4 linked regions of the Homo sapiens genome follow. The protein of the gene in region 1 interacts with the protein of each later gene in a pairwise test. Each region holds a gene or a part of one and is shown on either strand. Other genes may lie near its edges. The genes, in order: HOMER1, ZMYM5, SHANK2 and C1orf116.

Evidence for each region.
Region 2: the proteins of HOMER1 (region 1) and ZMYM5 interact in binary tests that used the Homo sapiens proteins (3 or more experiments, as listed by UniProt).
Region 3: the proteins of HOMER1 (region 1) and SHANK2 interact in binary tests that used the Homo sapiens proteins (3 or more experiments, as listed by UniProt).
Region 4: the proteins of HOMER1 (region 1) and C1orf116 interact in binary tests that used the Homo sapiens proteins (3 or more experiments, as listed by UniProt).

What each region holds. Positions count from the first base shown.
Region 1 is NC_000005.10:79,503,015-79,508,406, forward strand, and holds part of HOMER1 (homer protein homolog 1), read right to left. Parts: intron 1-5,392. UniProt on the Homo sapiens protein: Postsynaptic density scaffolding protein. Binds and cross-links cytoplasmic regions of GRM1, GRM5, ITPR1, DNM3, RYR1, RYR2, SHANK1 and SHANK3.
Region 2 is NC_000013.11:19,857,150-19,860,649, forward strand, and holds part of ZMYM5 (zinc finger MYM-type protein 5), read right to left. Parts: intron 1-3,500. UniProt on the Homo sapiens protein: Functions as a transcriptional regulator.
Region 3 is NC_000011.10:71,241,466-71,246,857, forward strand, and holds part of SHANK2 (SH3 and multiple ankyrin repeat domains protein 2), read right to left. Parts: intron 2,064-5,392; exon of another isoform or gene 1,931-2,063; intron 1-1,930. UniProt on the Homo sapiens protein: Seems to be an adapter protein in the postsynaptic density (PSD) of excitatory synapses that interconnects receptors of the postsynaptic membrane including NMDA-type and metabotropic glutamate receptors, and the actin-based cytoskeleton.
Region 4 is NC_000001.11:207,021,652-207,027,043, forward strand, and holds part of C1orf116 (specifically androgen-regulated gene protein), read right to left. Parts: intron 3,414-5,392; coding exon 3,236-3,413; intron 1,830-3,235; coding exon 307-1,829; 3' UTR 1-306. UniProt on the Homo sapiens protein: Putative androgen-specific receptor.

The sequences.
Region 1 (5,392 bases):
CTGACCTCGTGATCTGCCCGCCTTGGCCTCCCAAAGTGCTGGGATTACAGGCGTGAGCCACTGCGCCCAGCCTGCATGTAACTTTTAACTCCTCAAAAACTTTACTCATAACCTATTGTTGACTGGAAACCTTATTGATAACGTAGTCAATTAACACATTTTGTATGTGTATTATATACTGTACTCATACAATTAAGTAAACTAGGGAAAAATAAAACATGTTATTAAGAAAAGCAGGCCAGGCATGGCGGCTCACGCCTGTAATCCCTACACTTTGGGAGGCTGAGGCAGGCAGATCACTTGAGGTCAGGAGCTCGAGACCAGCCTGGAAAACACGAAATCCCGTCTCTACTAAAAATACAAAAATTAGCCAGGCTTGGCAGCATGCGCCTGTAATCCCAGCTACTCAGGAGGCTGAGACAAGAGAATCACTTGAACCCAGGAGGCGAGATTGCAGTAAGCCAAGATCATGCCACTGCACTCCAGCCTGGGTGACAGAGTGAGACTCTGTCACAAAGAGAAAAAAAAAAAAAAAAAAAACAGAGGCCAGGTGCCATGGCTCACGCCTGTAATCTCAGCACTTTGGGAGGCTGAGGCAGGTGGTTCACCCGAGGTCAGAAGTTCAAGACCAGCCTGGCCAACATGGCAAAACCCCGTCTCTATTAAAAATACAAAAATTAGCTGGGTGGGATTCAGCAAGACTCTGCCTCCAAAAAAAAAAAAAAAGAAAGAAGAAAATCATAAGTAAGAGAAAATGTATTTACTATCCATTAAGTGGAAGTCGATCATCATAAATATTCTTATCTTCATCTTCACATTGAGCAGGCTGAGGAGGAAGAGGAGGAAGGGTTGGTCTTGCTGTCTCAGGGGTGACAGCAGTGGAAGAAACTCTGCATTTAAGTGAACCTACACAGTTCAAACCTGTGTTGTTCAAGGGCATCTGTACTAAAATGTTGCAAAATACAATTAAACAGCAATGTCATCATTAATGTCTATTTCCACTATACTAACATATGCATAGCAATAAATATCAATTTAACAATAGTAAAATACTAAATGAAAGCAACAATGAAATACACAACTAAAATCTTACAGATCATCACTTGGGTAAGGAAAACAGCAGCCTGCGAGATCTAGAATTTTTTTTTTTAAATCAACAGAATCTCAAGAAAGACGAGTTTAAGAGTGACTTGGGAGTAGTCCCACTGAGCTTAATGTATACAGAACCCTGGCAATACTCAGTAAACAAGAGTAGGAGGAATCCTCAATCTGTAAACATCCTGGGAGCTGGCAGAGTGATTAAGCAAAGCACACAAATTTTAATGTTAAAAGCCATGAGACAGTGATTCATAACAGAGTAAGAAAGAAAACAGCACTGTTTTACAAAAGAATAAGCAAAAAAAAAAAAAAGGGCACAGAAAGGTAAAGGGATAGGCTAAGCAACTTAAATATTATAATAGGTTCAAAATATTTGTCCCATATACATTTAGGAATGTACAGACTTATCTTCCAGGAAGACTGACTGATAGAAATTCCTAATATGAGTATTTTGAGGTCTTTGATAGTCATGTCCTAAAGATCATTACTAAGAGCCAATGAGGGAAGCTAGAAAGTAACTGGGCAGAAAATTCCAACTCACACAAAGAAAGTCTTGTTCAGAACAACTCTTATAAATACTTAAATAAAACAGAAGAAAGACAATAACTACTTAAGATTGAGATATACGTAAATATAAAAGAATCCAAAAATTTACTTAGAAAAATTATCAGAAAAATAATTGGTATATCCAACTATCGGCCTAATTGCTAGAAATCAGGATTTTCTATTTATGAGCACTAATTCCCCCAAATCCTTTCAACTAATATTGCACATATGTACTGCACTATGAACTTGTGGGTTAGGAAGCACAGCGTATAATACCCAAAGAGATATGTATCAGAGCTATGTCTCTCAGTAGACTTCTATTAAGACTCCCCAACTAGGCTGGGCACAGTAGCTCATGCCCATAATCCCAGCACTTTGAAAGGCCAGGGTGGGTGGAGCACTTGAGGTCAGGACCAACATGATGAAACCCCATCTCTACCAAAAATACAAAAATTAGCCAGGTGTGGTGGTGCACCTGTAGTCCCAACTACTCCGGAGGCTGAGGCAGGAGAATCATCTGAGCCTGGGACATGGAGGTTGCAGTGAGCTGAGATGGTGCCACTTCACTCCAGCCTGGGTGACACAGCAAGACTCTGTTTCAAAAAAGACTCCCCAACTAGACAATGAGAAATTAGGAACAAACCATTCTATGGAAAGGGGGGGAATCATGGACATTCTCCTCTACAGGCCTCTGGACTCTGAGGCATGTGACCACATGGATCCAGACATGCCAATAGACATGACATAATAAACATGACTTTCAATGATCTTGTAAAGTAATGAAATTGTGTTCCCTAAGCACAGTTTTTTGTTTGTATTTAATGTCTACCTAACTCTTGCTTGGTAATTTTACAGAAAGCCCTCAATTCTTACAACTTTTGTGCCTTGAGGACATGGTGCCAACACTTCTCAAAAGATAACATTGAAACTCTTCTTGTTTTATGAAAGAACATTAAAATAAGATGTTCGTAAAGCCAAGCTAATTTTTAAAGCTAATATTAATATTAGGTGTTAAGAGATAAAGGTGATTTTTTAAAAGGTAGAGAAAATGAAAAGGTAAGTGTACTATGAAGATAAAACATTGATTAGATTACTGGTTTTGGGGGGTTTTATAAACAATTTTATTTTCTGATACAAGACAGAAAACAATGACTTTTTGCCTTCCTTTAGTAGTCTACCTTAATAGAAAAAAACATAAATAAGGGTAAATAAGATTCAGTTATTAACTAAGTCAAATGTTAGTTCTATGTATAAAATTATTTTAGCTACGCAAGAGCCATACTGGCTTCACAATCCATTTTTGGGCGGACAAAACCTCACTGAAAGAATAGTAAAAAAGATGACCCTATAAAATTAATTCTATTATCTGAAATGTTTAGCAGACAAAAAAAATTAAATTAATTCTAAATTGTACTTACCAGAGAAGTGAACAAATTTTTAAAAACTTTTATTTATTTATTTATTTATTTTTTTGAGATGGAGTTTCCCTCTGGTTGCCCAGGCTCAAGTGCAATGGGGCAATCTCGGCTCACTGCAACCTCCGCCTCACAGGTTCAAGCGATAAAAACTTTCAAAAACAAGATTTTAAAAAATCCAAGTAGAAGAAAAAGGCAAAGCAAAAAAGATTATATGTGTTGATAATTTCCCTCAAAAATACTGCTTAAAACAAACAGCATTGATTCTTATCAGTTTCATCTTTTTTTCCTTTCTCAGACATTTCATGAAGGAGCACAGAAATGACAAATGTGTTACACTCAGGACAGACGGAAAAAGGAGTATCAAAAGGTATGAAATGCTAAAATTAAGAACATAAGTTCATCAATAAAGTTGACTCTTTTAACAGAGAGTCATTATGGATGTCCTAATTTTATAGACTATGGAGAGGCGTGCTGTAAAAATTAAGATTAAAATACATGATTTTGGCCAGGCGTGATGGCTCACAGCAAGGCAGACGGATCACTTGAGTTCAGGAGTTCAAGACGAGCCTGGGCAACATGATGAAACCCCATGCCTACAAAAAGTACAAAAATTAGCCTGCCATGGTGGTGTGAGCCTATAGTCCCAGCTACTCGGGAGTCTAAAGTAGGAGGATTGCTTGAGTCTGAGAGGTCAAGGCTGCAGTAAGCCATGATGGCACCACTGCACTCCAGCATGGGCCACTGCACTGTCTCAAAAACAAAACCAAACAAACAAAAAAATATATATATATATGATTTTATTCACATACTGAAGACCATTGAATGATTAGCTTTTAAAAAGTTTTACCTACTCTTGGCAGGGCGCGGTGGCTCATGCCTGTAATCCCAGCACTTTGGGAGGCCGAGGCAGGCAGATCACGAGGTCAGGAGTTCGAAACCAGCCTGGCCAATACGGTGAAACCCCGTCTCTACTAAAAAATGCAAAAATTAGCCAGGTGTGGTGGCGCGCACCAGTAGTCCCAGCTACCTGGGAGGCTGAGGCAGGAGAAATGCTGGAACCCGGGAGGCGGAGGTTGCAGTGAGCCAAGATCGCGCCACTGCACTCCAGCCTGGGTGACAGAGTGAGGCTCTATCTCAAAAAAAAAAAAAAAAAAAAAAACCAAAACAAAAAAAAAACAGTTTTACCTACTCTTGCAATACTCATTCAGTAAGATAGATGTGAAAATTTTATCTCAATTCTTCTAGATGGTAGATGGGCTAAAATCTAAATAAATATTCCTTATCACATGTAGATTCTTTTGAAATGAACATATTTAACAGACCTGAAACTTTGCAATGCCTCAAAATCACTCAACTTTTCAAAAACAAACAGAAATATTAGCCACGGGTCATAAGGCATTACAAATATGCAACACAAAAAAACTGCACATTTCATTCCACGAGATACGACCTGAGATATAAATCTATGTAAAATGTTTTATAGTCATTTAAAAACTACATCAGAAAAAAATTATATCAGAAAACATTAAGCACTCGGCACTCATTTTCCCTACTCTTCTGTCCAGTTAGTCATATTAATCTGAAATAACAATCCAGTAACTAAAAATAAATACTTCAACTAAACACTAAAGACTGAAAAAAAAAAAAATCACATGGCAGTAGAGAGGTTAGACCTTTTGGGATATAACCACCTTTTCTTCTGAGATGTTTAATCACTCAAAACTATAAACTATGAATAAGGACAGTTTCTTCTGTCAACCCCTTAACTCCCAAATTCACTATTTTATGACCCATAGTTAGTGACTCTGCTAAGAACATACCATGCTCTTTGCTACATTCTTACCTCTCCAATGAAATGTCCTAATTCTGAAAAAGCCCCGTTCAGCCAACTACACATCTCTCAGTCACCATCCCTCCCCTCCCCACTTCGGAACCTTCCAGGGCCTGCCCAACTGTCCACTTCCTCTACCCAGCCAGAGTTCATTGTTCTGGCTTGGTGTTTCCACAGGATACAAGACACAAAACCAAATTGTAAATGATTTTTAAAATTGCTTTCTTATTCTACTTCCCTGATCATGTTCTTACTCTGCTTAAAACCCTTTAGTAATCTTCACACAGAAGAGAAGTGCTTTTCAAATTACCAGTTGCTAACACAGCGTCATTAAATAAATTGAGTGGGTCACCATCATCAGTCTATCTTAAAAATAAAATAGAACGGAACAGAATAGAAACTACCAGAGTGTACCATACAAAGCAAGGGTATTATGTAGTGACATTTTATCATTTATATACAAGCATATTGGGTTGCAATGTAAAGATGCTTATCTTTC
Region 2 (3,500 bases), on another chromosome or scaffold:
ATAAAAAGGTATTTAGGCAAATACTATGCTACATTGCTACATGCTGGGATTTCAGCAACTGTCTAATTTTAAACATTTAACTAGTCTTCTTGTGGTATCTTATTCATACACAAATTATAACACTAGCAAAATGCTTACATGTAAACTATCTCTAGAGAATGGGAAACAACGTAAATTTAACGGGATATTTAGGTGTAAAGATAAGGGTTAACATAAAACAAAGAAATGAATAAATGTACTTTGACCTATTTAGCTCTTCTTGTAGACTACTTTCAGAGACACTTCACAGTTGAGTATATAAGCACACCTATTTAAAATCAGATATAAAGGTGTACCATGACTCTGAAGGTACTCACAAAAGTAATGAGATCAGAAAAAAGAAGAGTCAACTGAACTACTACCACAAATAGCAAGAGAATTACTGCAGGAACTAGGTACAAAATTACTATCTAAATTGGGCCTGGTGCCTCACACCTATAATCCTAACACTTAGGGAGGCCAAGGCAGGAGGATCACTTGAGGCCAGGAGTTCAAGACCAACTTGGGCAACAAACTGAGAACTCATCTCTACAAAAAAATAAAGGCCAGGTACAGTGGCTCATGCCTATAATCTGAGCACTTTGGGAGGCTGAATAAGATGGGAGGATAGCTTGAGCCCAGGAGTTCAAGACCAGCCTGGGCAATGCAGAGAGACCCCTCTCTACAAAAATTTAAAAAGTCCAACATGGTGGCATACGCCTGTAGTCGCTGCTACTTGGGAGGCTGAGGTGGAAGGATGGCTTGAGCCCAGGGGGTCAAAGTTGCAGTGAGCCATGATCACACCACTGCACTCCAGCCTGGGCAACAGAGCAAGACCCTGTCTCAAAAATAAAAAATAAATATAATAAAATAAAATAATTAGCTGGGCATGGTGGTGCACGCCTGTAATCCCCAGCTACTTGGGAGACTGAGGCAGGAGAATCACTTGAGCCCAGGAGTTCAGGGCTGCAGTGAGCTATGACCACACCACAGCACTAAAGTCTGGGCAACAGAGTTAGACCTGTCTCTAAAAATTAAAAAAAAAAAACAAAAAAACCACAAAGACAAAAAACAAACAGAAAAAACAACTCTGCCTAGAAATCACTAGCCCAGCAGGGATTAAGACAGTAAAGTGGGCCAGGTGCAGTATAATGCCCCTGTAATCCCAGCGCTTTGGGAGGCCTAGGCAGGTGGATCGCTTGAGTCCAGGAGTTCAAGACCAGCCTAGGCAACATGGCGAAACCTTGTCTCTACAAAAAATACAAAAATTAGCCAGGCATAGTGGCACATGGTTGTGGTCCCAGCTACTTGGGAAACTGAGGCAGGCAGCTTGTTTGAGCCTGGGAGATAGAGGCTGCAGTGAGCCGAGATGGGCCACTGCACTCCAGCCTGGGTGACAGACTGAGAGACGCTGTTTCAAAAAAAAAAAAAAAAAAAAAAAGATGGCCGATTGATCACATACAACTAACTTCGTTCCCTTCCAAAACTCCCCTAAACAGGACTACCACAAGGAAAGGAAGAATAAGAAACAAAAGCAATATGATTTTATAAGCCAAAGAACAGATGGATGAATGGTTAACTGCCAACCTGAGATAGCCAGAGTCTAAAACAGTGAATAAAAAGCCAAGAAACATTCTGATTTCCACTGTAGGCTCAGAAATCTGTAGCACCACATATCCCTGGAACAGAATGGGCAGATGCTAAGAAAAGAGGTTGAGAGATATCTTCCCTCCCATCAAGTTGATGGTGACAGGCCTTTCCCCATCCTAGCACAGATTCTAAAAATTTTTTCTTTGATAAGATAGAACATAAGATCTAAGTCTTGGGTTCACCAAGCACTGGGGAATGTTTCAATACCATGAAATATCTCCTCTCCATTGCTTGAACCCAGGAGGCAGAGGTTGCAGTGAGCCGAGATCACGCCACTGCATTCCAGCCTGGGCAACAAGAGCAAAACTCCATCTCAAAAAAAAAAATGTCCCCTCTCCTACTTGATTCCCAGAGAGCTGGCATCCAGACTTCTATTTTCCAGGCAGCAAACTCTTTTCTGGAGGCTTTCTTTCTGAGCAAGACTCTTCCCTGCGGAACTAAGAATCAGCAAAAAAGGAAAGTCCTAAAAATATTAACCTATGGGGTTCCCCATCAATTGGCCAGAAGATCACCCGCAAGCTTCAAGTTGGAAACCCCACTCTCACTCTTCCAATTTGCTTTTTAGTTCCCGTTTTTTGTTTGTTTGTTTGTTTGTTTGTTTTTGAGACGGAGTCTCGCTCTGTCACCCAGGCTGGAGTGCAGTGGCGCGATCTTGGCTCACTGCAAGCTCCACCTCCCAGGTTCACGCCATCCTCCTGCCTCAGCCTCCTGAGTAGCTGGGACTACAGGCACCTGCCACCATGCCCAGCTGATTTTTTTTTTTGTATTTTTTGTAAAGATGGGGTTTCACCGTGTTAGCCAGGATGGTCTCAATCTCCTGACCTCATGATCTGCCCACCTTGGCCTCCCAAAGTGCTGGGATTACAGGTGTGAGCTACTGTGCCCGGCCTTTAGTTCCCAATTCTTAATCATAAATAAAACAGTCAAGAATTATGCAATATATGTAACACCTACTATGTACCCACAAAAATTTTAAATAAAAATTTTTAAAAAACTAATTACACAGGCCGGGTGTGGTAGTGGGTGCCTATCATCCCAGCACTTTGGGAGGCCAAGGCGGGCGGATCACTTAGGTCAGGAGTTCGAGACCAGCCTGGCCAACATGGTCAGTCCCTTGTCTCTACTAAAAATACAACAATTAGCCAACGTGGTGGCATGTACCTATAGTCTCAGCTACTCAGGAGGCTGAGGCACAAGAATCGCTTGAGCCCAGGAGGCAGAGGTTGCAGTGAGCCTAGATCACGCCATTGCACTCCAGCCTGGGTGACAGGGCAAGACTGTCTCAAAAAAAAAAAAAAAAAAAAAAAGAGGAAAAAAAAAGAATTATAGATGGAGTCTCACTCTGTCGCCCAGGCTGGAGTGCAGTGGTGTGATCTTGGCTCACTGCAACCTCCGCCTCCTGGGTTCAAGTGATTCTCCTGGCTCAGCCTCCTGAGTAGTTGGAATGACAGGCACCCACCAGCACACCCGTTTAATTTTTTTTTTTTTTTTTGAGACAGAGTTTTGCTCTTGTTGCCCAGACTGGAGTGCAATGGCACAATCTCGGCTCACCATAACCTCTGCCTCTCAAGTAGCTGGTATTACAGGCATGTGCCACCAGGCCCGGCTAATTTTGTGTGTGTGTGTGTGTATGTGTGTGTGTGTGTGTGTGTGTATTTTTTTTTTTGTAGTGACAGGGTTTCTCCATGTTGGTCAGGCTGGTCTTGAACTCTCGACCTCAGGTGATCTGCCTGCCTTGGCCTCCCAAAGTACTGAGATTCCAGGTGTGAGTCACCATGCCCAGCCCATTTTTGTATTTTTAGTAGAGACGGGGTTTCACCATGTTGACCAGG
Region 3 (5,392 bases), on another chromosome or scaffold:
CTGCATATGAGATCAGCAAATGACCCATTGCACAATCAGCCTGCGTTTAAGATCATGAGGCAACCGGAAAGCATCTAATCAGTTAATCAGCTACATTTTGCAGGAGACACTCTCCCCCCTGCTACTGTCTCTGGTCCCTGTTTTTCTTGGGATCCAGCTCTAGGCTGGGGCTGAACCCACAAAGATGAGACACCCCCACCAGGTTCCCAGGGAGCAGCACCTTGCCTCACTGGAAGACACCAGACATGGGAAGGAGTCATGTCCCACAATTTCTCCCACACTCAGGGTCACCCCTACTTTCTCCTGAGACCCATGAAGAAAGGTGGGGCCTCCTTCTGTGAGAAAGCAGCCTAGGCTGGAGCGAGTGGGTAAAAGATCTCAGCTTTAGTATCTCAAGACCAGACGGGCCTGGGGCTGGACGCTGCTTTTGAAGGTGTTTTCTAAAAGCAAGGACTCAAGATACTTGCACAACCATGTTCGCAGTAGCATTATTCACAACAGCCAGAGGGTGAAGCCACCCAGGTCCTCAAGGATGGATGAATGTATAAACAAAATGTGGCCCATCCACACAATGGAATATTACTCAGCCACAAAAAGGAAGGAAATTCTGACACACGCTACAACATGGATGAGGCTTGAGAACATTATGCTGAGTGAATTAAGCCAGACTCAAAAAGACAAACACTGCATGATTCCACTTGGATGAGGTCCCTACAGAAGTCAAAGAGACAGAAAACAGACTGGTGGTCGCCAGGGGCTGGGAGAAGGGGGCTGGTTTGCTAGTGTTTAGTGGGGACGTAGTTTCAGTTCTGCAAGCTGAAGAGTTCTACAGATACATGGTGACGATGGCTGCAGAGCACGATGAGCATCCTTAATGCCTCAGAACTACACACCTAAAAATGGTGAAAAGGGTAACTTTTTATGTTATAGGTATTTTGCACAATTTATAAAATGTGCATTGGGAAAAAAAGTGCTCTCAATTTCCACTGAACTCTTCCTGTATCACACACCGCTTCCTTTACCTCCTTTAAGTGTTTGCTCAAGGACCGCTACCTCAATGCAGCTCACCCCGACCATCCTGCTAAAACAGCAGCCCCCCTGGCTCCCAGCCCCCACCAGCAAGCTCTCCTTTCCTCCCACACTACATCACTGCTTATTTATGATCTCCTTTAATTATTGTTTGCTCCCCTGGCGAGGATGTCGACCCTACAAGGGCAGAAATATTTGTCTGTCTGGTTCACTGTTGTATCCCAGAGTCTAGAGCAGCCTAGCAGACACCTGCAGCACATGCCACAAAAGACGGCAGAATACTCATTCTTCTCAAGGGCACGTGGAACATTCTCCAGGAGAGGCCTCATGCCCGGCTATAAAACAGCCTCATTAAACATCAGCAGGACTGAAATTATACAAATAATGTTCTCCAACCACAATAGAATGAAATTCGAAATTTATTTTACAAATGCACAAATATGTGGAAATTAAACAGACATCTAAATAGCCAATGGGTCAGAGAATAAACCACGGGGAAATTGGAAAACACTTTGAAACGAGTGAAAAAGAAGACAAAACACATCAAAACTTATGGAATACAACTAAAGCAGTACTTAAAGGAAATTCAGATCTGTAAATGTCTATGTTAAAAAGAAGAAAAATCTCAAATCAATAACCAAAACCTTCCACCTTGTGAGAGTCAGAAAAAGAACGGGAAACTGAAACTGAGCTAGCAGAAGGAAGGAAATAATAAAGGTTAGGGCTGAAGTTAATGAAATCTAAGCTAGAAAAGCAATAAAGAAAATCAATGAAACTACAAGTTGGTTATTTGAAAAGATCAACGAAATTTACAAACCTGAGCTGAAATGATCAAGAAAAGAAGGGAAGACTCAAATTACCAAACTCAGGAATGAAAGAAGGGACATTATTACCAACTTACAGAATTAAAAGGAGTCAGGCCGGGCGTGGTGGCTGATGCCTGTAATCCCAGAACTTTGGGAGGCTGAGGCGGGCGGATCACGAGGTCAGGAGATCAAGACCATCCTGGCTAGCACGGTGAAACCCCGTCTCTACTAAAAATACAAAAAAATTAGTTGGGCCTGGTGGTGGGCGCCTGTAGTGCCAGCTACTCGGGAGGCTGAGTCAAGAGAATGGTGTAAGCCCGGGAGGCGGAGCTTGCAGTGAGCTGAGATCACGCCACTGCACTCCAGCCTAGGCAACAGAGCAAGACTCTGTCTCAAAAAAATAATAACAATAATAATAATGAGACGGTGCTACAAACAACTACATAGCAACCACATTAGAGAAACTCACATGAAGTGGACACATTTCTGGTGGGACACAAACTAACAAACTTGACTCAAGAAGAAACAGAAAATCTAAAAAGACCTATGACAAGCAGAGATCCAATCAATAATTTTAAAAGTTTTCACAAAGAAAAGCCTAGGCCCAGATGGCTTTATTGGTGAATTCTACCAAACATTTAAAGAAGAATGAAGGCCAATTTTGCATAAACTTTTCAGAAAAAAATGGAAGACAATGCTTCCCAAGTCATCTTATGAGGCCAGTATTACTCTGATACCAAAACCAGACTTCAAAAGAAAACTATAGGCTTCCTTGGGCAGCCAGACACCTACAAAGTCCTCTCCACTCTCCTGTCTACACTTGCAAGCCTGCCTCACTCTATAAATTGGCCAGGCTGCTCTCTCAGAGTCTCCTAAACTGCCTTAGGCTCTGCCAGCCTCCTTGACCCCACAGCCTGGAAGGTGCCTCTGCATGCTCCCACCATCCTAGACCCCACAATCAGAGGGCCTGCCCCTGGGGTCGGAACCAGCTGGTGGCTGTCTGAAGCCCCTGACTAAACTCCACAGACATATCCTGAACGACAAGAAAAGGTACATGCATCATTCAAAGCACCCTTTGGACCACATGGCACAGCCAGCTTTCAAACGGGACCCATGCACTGACAAGGCGGATCACACGCTCCTCCCAGAGGCTCTCAGCGTGCAGCCCCGGGAACCAGCCTATTCGAGAGATCTATGAAGTCAAACCATTCTCATCATAACACTGAGATGGGAGCTGCTTTTTCAAGCTCATCCTCTCCCAAGTGCACAACGGAAGCTACAAAACTTGTGATATTGCAACAAGCTGACTGCAGGAGCAGATACGGGAACCCAGCTGTCTTCCATTAAACCTCACAGCAAAAAGACCACAAAAATGTTAAACAATGCCACTCTTCTCACCAAGTGTTTTTTTGTTGTTGTTGAGATGGACTGTCACTCTGTTGCCCAGGCTAGAGTGCAGTGGGGCAATCTTGGCTCACTGCAACCTCCGCCTGCCGGGTTCAAGTGATCTCTTGTGCCTTAGCCTTCTGAGTAGCTGGGACTACAAGTGTGCCCCACTGTGCCTGGCTAATTTTTGTATTTTTAGTGGAGATGGGGTTTCACCATTTTGGCCAGGCTGGTCTCGAACTCCTGACCTCAAGTGATCCACCCGTCTCGGCCTCCCAAAGTGCTGGGGTTACAGGTGTGAGCCACTGCACTATTTTTTTTCCTCACTCTGTCACCCAGGCTAGAGTACAGTGGCGTGATCACGGCTCACTGCAACATCGACCTCTCAGGCTCAGGTAATCCTCCCACCTCAGCTTCCTGAGTAGCTGGGACCACAGGTGCGTGCCACTACACCTGGCTAATTTTTTATTTTTTGTAGAGATGGGGTCTCATTATATTGCCTAGGCTGGTCTCAAATTCCTGGCCTCAAGCAATCCTCCTGCCTCAGCCTCCCAAAGTGCTGGGATTACAGGCCTGAGCCACCTCGACCGGCCTCACCAAGTGTTTTTCTTATTTTGAAAATAGTTGTTATCCATAAAAACACATTATTTATACCAACATGTCATGAGTTTATTACTATTTTTAAATGCATTAATAATTAGATATTTGTAAATTCTAATAGCGTAAATAACAATAGATTCGTGCTCATACATAAAAAGCTTCTGGGTCCTTCAAAATGCTAAGAGAGCAAAAAAGATTCCTTAAGCTAGAAGTCTGACAACCACTGTGCTACCTCATCTGCTTTACCTGAAAGTGAACAGAAAAATAAACTGGTGTGCCACCCAGGAGGCAATCTGGAGGCCGGGGAAGCGACCGGTGCCTTCTTCTGCACGGTGGAGTGGGCAGCCGCCAGGTGTGGATCCCAGCTGGGCCACACGACCTTCGGCAAGTTCAGCCACTGGAGCTGAATGACCCTCGAGGGAGGGAAAGTCCAGAACCAAGACGAGGGGCAGTAGCGACGCCATCGGGTCAGTATCTTCCCCTGCCAAAGTCCCCTGGTCCATGCTTGGGGCCACTGTAGGACCTTGAAATGCAGACAGGAGCAAGGCGTGGTCCCTTTCCTGGGGGACCTGTCCACCTCGTGAGGAGGGGTCAGACAGGAGCCCGGCTGGCCCAGGGGCAAATGCCTCTAGTTTGCAGGCCCCTGTACGGGAAGAGGGGAGTGGAGCAGATTCTTCAAATCCCAGGGACATTTGTGCGGGGTGGCAGGAAAAACATGGACAGGAACGGCTGAGCCCTATGCTCTCAGGGGTACAAATGAGGCCACAGAAGCATCCCCCTCCACTCCCCAGGAAGCCTGCATTCTCCCCAGGGAAGGAATCCAGGGCAGGATTTTCAGGAAAGACAGGCTTGGAAGCTCATTTCCCACCTCCCAGGAGCCCGGAAGTCTGTGTCAGCTCCAGGTCTGGAAACCCAGGATGCCCTGCACCCCATTCCTTGGGCCCTAAGCCTCCCAGGACCCACCCCAGTGGACCAGGGAGCAGACTGCCAGCTGTCCAGACTCTTGGCCATTCCCCACCCCCACCGAGGACTCTAGGTGCTGACTCTGGATTCTCCTTGAGAAGAGGAGGGGACTGATGAGCCGGAGTGAGGAAGACGTGGGGCAGGACACCCCCAAGTCTGCAGGGAGGCAGCAAAGCCTGGCAGTATGCAGAGCACACACCTGGCATCACATGTCACTGCCTTCACGTAAGTATCATCACTGTCCCCAGGTAAGAATCACCTGCAGGACCTTGAGTACAGGTGTAATCTTGTGAACTAAGATCTCCCTTGCAGGGGGCTTCAAACTGAGGTGCAAGGACCCTTTCCACGTAGACCCAGCTCAGTCTAAAGGGTAGCCAAGTCTTTCCTGAAATTGCTCAGTGGAGAAAGGCCTTGGATCCCCTGCCCACCTCCCCTCCCTAACATCCCTGAGGCTCTTTTACATAAGAAAGGCATAGCTATCCCCCGGAAGCTGGTGAGGGGGTGGTGCAGCTCCAGGTGAAGGGCCCTCCTGATACCAAAACAAAAGGGCTAATGCAACTAGGGCTTCAATTAAAACACCAAAAACACCCACTGCCTTCTCACTCAGA
Region 4 (5,392 bases), on another chromosome or scaffold:
TCTAACAAGAGCAAAATTCTGAACAGTGACTCATTGTGTTATATCAATAGCTTCAGTGATGTATCCAGCGGCCCCCCCTCCACACACACACCAAACACACACACACACACCCTCTTGTGGAGATCACCTTCAGAATGATCCACATGGGAACTCAATGGCACAACACTGAATATAAATGTATGCTTGGACTCAAATCTCTCCCTCCCATTCATCTTGAGCCCTGAGTTGCGTGGTGGCAAAGGCTCCCAAGTGGAGCATGTGTCTCTTCTTGTTCAGCCAGGACAGGGTCTGTACTGGTCGCAGAGTCTACTCCTTCAACAGTCCCAGCTTCTTCAGGGCCTCCCTTCTGTGTTCATTGGGGACACCCTTTGGGGAGATCTTGACACTGACACAGGGGGGGCGAGGAAGCTTGTCACGGCTCTGTCCTTGGTAGGACAGGCGCTTGGAGCTCTGCTCCTGCTCCAGGTCAGCCAGCTTGCCTACCTGGATACCTGCAAAATCTTTCCCCGTGCCCAGGGAGGCCGGGCGGGGCCGAGAATTACGTAAGACACTGGGCGAGATCTTGTCCAAGAAGGAGCCCTTTCCCAGAGAAGTGCTGGTTTTGGGGCTGGCATCTTTCTCAGTTGAAAGGTAGCTGCTCAGTCCCACGCCTGAGCGCTCCAGAGTGTTGGACTTGAAGTTCATCTGTCTCAGGCCAGGGGTGTTGCTCTCCTGGAGAGTCAGCCCTGACTCTGGCTTCGGTGGAGTCAGGGCACTGTTTGCCCTTGGGGCCTTAGGGATAGAAATTGGCATAGATTTGCTAGCTGCAACATTGCCTGGAGCTGGAGACTTCATTGGCAAAGGTCCCTGAGCTGGACCTGGAGCTGGAGCCGGAGCTTGAGCCAGAGCCTTCCCAGCAGCAGGAATAGCTGCTGAGGCCTGGGCTGGAGCTGCAGGCTGAGCCAGACCTGGAGCTGGGGACAGATGCTGGGCCCGTGTCTCCTTGGGTCTGATGGAGCTGGTGGGCTTACTTAAGTGGAGTCCAGGCTCATCTTGATCCTGGGGTAGCCCCAGCTTCTCTAGAGCTTCTTTACGTGCTTTTCTCTGCTCTTGCAGTGAACAGGAGATCAGGCCAGAATCTCCAGGGGCAGCCTCAGTGTGGCGGGACAGCCAGTGCTGGGGGTCACTGTGGAAACTGCTTCGGCTGCTCTTCAGAACAATATTAGGTGGCAGCTTCCGGGGCTTAGGGGTTGTGAGGGGAGCTAGTCGGCTGTTTGGGTCCTCCCCTGATGAGAGGGGAGCATCTTCAGCTCTTGCATTCTGAGGCAACCCTGCAGGAGGAGGCTGGGGTTGTGTGTACCTGGTTGAGACTGTTTCCTTGGCTTTTTGGGACATGGCTTCTGAAGGAGTCTGCTCTCTTTCCTGGGAGCTGGATGGTGTGTGGAGCTGGGGTGTGTGGCCCTGCTGTCCTGGCCCCTCGGGCAGGCTGGCTTCCCTACACTGCTCTGGCTGGGTGTCCCGGAAAGCTTCTGGCGGAGGGATGAGCACCACGTCCAAGTCAAGGGCAGCCTCCTGGGGGCTGGCAGGTGCCTGCCTGGGTTGGCTGCTCTGGCTGACCTGTTCTTTCTCAGGCTCTGGCGCAAGCCTCCCCGGTTCTCCAGGGTTGTGACTGCTAGCCTGGGTGGTGCTTTTCCTGAAGTTCTGGCTTCTGGCAATGTGGATATTCCTAGGGAGGCTGTAGGAGCCAGACCTGAGGCCTAGGCCCTGGGGCTCAGGAGGGTGGGATGAGCTGGACTCAGTTACTGTCCTTGGCGTTCGTCCTTGCTGAGTGATGGTCTCCTCTGGACCTCCTGTGAGGGTCAGAAAGAACATAAAAGAGTGGACAGAAAAAGAGTGGACAGAGGTGAGGGCCCTGCTGCAGAGGGGAAAGCAATGACTTCCTGAACTCTGATCCCAAACTAGCAATGAATGGGTTTTATTTTGCCTTGTTTTCTTTGCTTTTACAAGAGCAGCACTTTTGTCTGGATATCATTTAGACTAATAGATCAGTAATAGCAGATCCAGGGCCAGGCGCAGTGTCTCATGCCTGTAATCCCAGCACTTTGGGAGGCCAAAGCAAGTGGATCATTTGAGCCCAAGAGTTCGAGACCAACCAGGGCAACATAAGAGACCCCCATTTCTACAAATAATAATAGCATATCTTTTTTTGACTGAGAATTAATTTTTCATGATGGGCGGCAAGAGAGTGACCCCTGATTGCTCTAAGTTATTGACTTGACCTCTCCCCAGTTTTCTACAGAGGCACCAGGGTTGGAGATAAATTTGGGACAGTTCCTTCTAGCTATTTTGGGCCTCCCAGATAACTGAGCCCAATGCAAGCCTCTGAATAAGTGATTTGCTCTTGATTCAACCAGGCTTCTGCCTTCTACTTGCACTTTCTATGAGCATGTGGATAATTCTGTAATAGCCATAGTGTCCCCACACCAGAAAGTGACTCCTTTCCTTCCAGTGAGCTAGGCAGGTACATCAGGCCCCCTGGGCCAGTGAATCAGCCTCATGGAGCAGGAAAGCCCTACGTCCCCATTTATAGCTCTAGCTCCAGGGAAGGTCTAACTACTTGTTAATAAATATTTGCTAAATGAAACAACACAAAACTGCAGCCCCAATACCAGCGGGACTGTCCTCAGGAGTAAAAGGTTTCTCACACCCTGGGACATGTGGCCCCACAGTCATGGCCACACTTGTGTGTTGTTTTGTTCCCCTTCTGCTGAGCCTGAATACCACTGGCTTTCCACGCTCTCTAACGAGGGCCTTGAGGTACTTCCCACTGCAGCTGGGGAGCCCTTCCTTCTCCTTATCTCTCCTACCCTTGTCCTCTGTGTCACCCAGATTAGCTCTCTAGACTGACTCAGTCTCTCCAGAGCCAACCACCCAGCCCTCCCTGACTCCCTCCCCCGCCTCTGCGGTCATATCTCTTTAGAATTTTTCCACAGGAGAATGGGAGCTGGTCAAACCCCTTTCCCTTCTAGAGCTCTGATACTTCATAGACAGACATAGGAAGCTGGCTTGCCAGGGGTCCCTCCTTCCCTCCAGGGACAAGGCTCTGTTCTAGCCAGGAGAGTGGTGAGGAGTGTGGCTACACCTTCTTCTGCCTGTGACCCTTGGGGTAGAGGGCAGGCGAGGTAGAAAGTGGCCGGAGGGGACATATTGATTTTCTGGGTTTTGCTGGGGTTCCACCCCAGAGGGTCTGCCTTACCCCGGGGAGTGGGTTGGGTTATGGGCAGTGCTCGGAAACCTCTGGGAGTTGTGGCTGGCTCAGACTCGTCAGTGGACAGTCCGCTGTCAGCCTCCGTGTCCAGTGAGCCAATGGTCTCCTCCAGGAAGAGCAGACACTCCTTCTCTTCAGTGGACAGGAAGTCGTAGCTGCTATCACTCTGTTGGGTTTGGGGTTGGGGGCGGGGGCGGGGAGGCGGGGGGGAGGGCGAGAAGAAGAACAGGAGAGGGAGAGAGAGCTGTGAGAAAGCGCTCCCTCCGCAGAAACTGGCGGGGCCTGAGAACCACCCTGCAGAGAGGAAGGAATGCTGAAGAGCTGGAAACCTTTCCCTCCTGCTACTCTGCAAAGCTGCTGGAGTTGCCTCCTGAAACTGTAGGCACCAGGGAGGGCAGAGTCTGTCAGGAGGCTGGCCCACTAGCGCCCAGCTCTGGAGCTGGGCAGGCACATGGCAGGGGCCTTTCTTTTGCTCAGTCCTGGCTTGAATGCTTAGGGGCACAGATTAGAAGCAGTCCCAAGTTTCAATGTTTGACAGCCTTTGTCAAACATCTCACTTTGAGCACCTCTGATTTAGCTCCAAATAAGAAGTGCAACATAACAATTTGACCTGAAACTTCAGTGGTATTGCTTTTAACTTTTAAAAGTACTTCTGCATACTTGATCTGGTATGTCAAGGGCAGTATGAGGAAAAGCAGGAAATGAAGCCAGCTATGAGCTGCCAGGCCAGTAGGAACTGTGGCATGACTGGCCACAGATAAATGTACTAAATGATTTGTACTTGACTTTGAAATGCATTCCATACGGGAATTTTTCCCCTTGTACATTTACTTTCTTGATGACATTTGGCTCTGGCTAATGTTCAAGTAAGTGTGCATTTCTAAAGCAAATATTAACTTAAAGGGGGAGGTTGGTGGAGAAACTGGATGGTATGGGAGGAGGGAAAAGCAGCTTAGTATTAAATATTAAGTAGATCTTAAAGTAGATCATATTCATTATGAGAGAGTACATAGAGGTTTTTGGAAGAAAATAATAATGGTCATCTCAGACAGTTACTGTCTATGTTGTATGGGGCTAGAAGTTTGCTGGAATAGTTGCTCTTCCACAGAGGAGGTTGAAGGGAAAACAAAAGGGCAAATTGGAATATAAGAAATTTGGGCCAAGTCTCTTCTTGGCATCTCCAGCCCTTTTCCTAATATTTGGGACACTTCAGAGTTGTATATTCTTCAGGCCCACTCAGATGGCCAGGAAAGATTTTGAGACAGCTCTAAAAATATCCTGGAGGGAGGGGAGAGGGTTGCAGAATAACCCTTCCATTTGCCTCTGGAACTTCCTTTCGCATGTGGGCCTACATGTTAAAGCAAGCCCCAAATATAGCCCCTGGAAGCTCTGAAGCTGACGCCAAGAGTTTCTTGAAGAAAAATATCTTTATTGTCCTCTTCCTCCTAAAATAGCCTTGCCAAGGATAAGCTGACTCTGAGTTTCTCCTTCATGAATGATTCACTTTGAAAACCTTTAATCCCTGTCACATTCTGTGTCCAATGCTATGTGACTATTCACGTTGGCCTCAGCCTAAAAGACATAGAAAGACGTCTCCACAGCCCCATTATCTAGGGTCAAAATGAAATTTGTATGATTGTCTGCACTTTGGATTTGTGCATGTGTGTTTCTTTCTCTACTCTATTTTTACATATCAAAATCCACTGGTTGTCTTAAACATCTTGACATTCAGTAGACACCCTTAAATTTTCAAATACCTCTATAGGATACAATGCAAAAAAGCATAAATTCTCTATGATTCTTATGTATGTGACAAGCATGAACAACAAATGTTTGCGTCTGGATGCAGCACAGATTTACTCTTTCACACCAGCCTCACAACAACTGAGATTTAAATTCATGCCCAGAAAAATTACAGTTTATTAAATGCCACTCACAAGTAGCTAAACACAGTGACTTTGGAAGATTCTCAGTCTCTGCTCCTAGAAAGGCTGATTCTTTTCTATATAGAGGCATATGCTAGGTGCTTTACCTGTATCACATTTACTCCCCACAAATTGAATTGGGTATGAACACTAAGTATCCCATTTGAAAACTGAGGAGGCTAAAGCTTAGAGAAATTAAGTAATTTGCCCAAGGTCATAC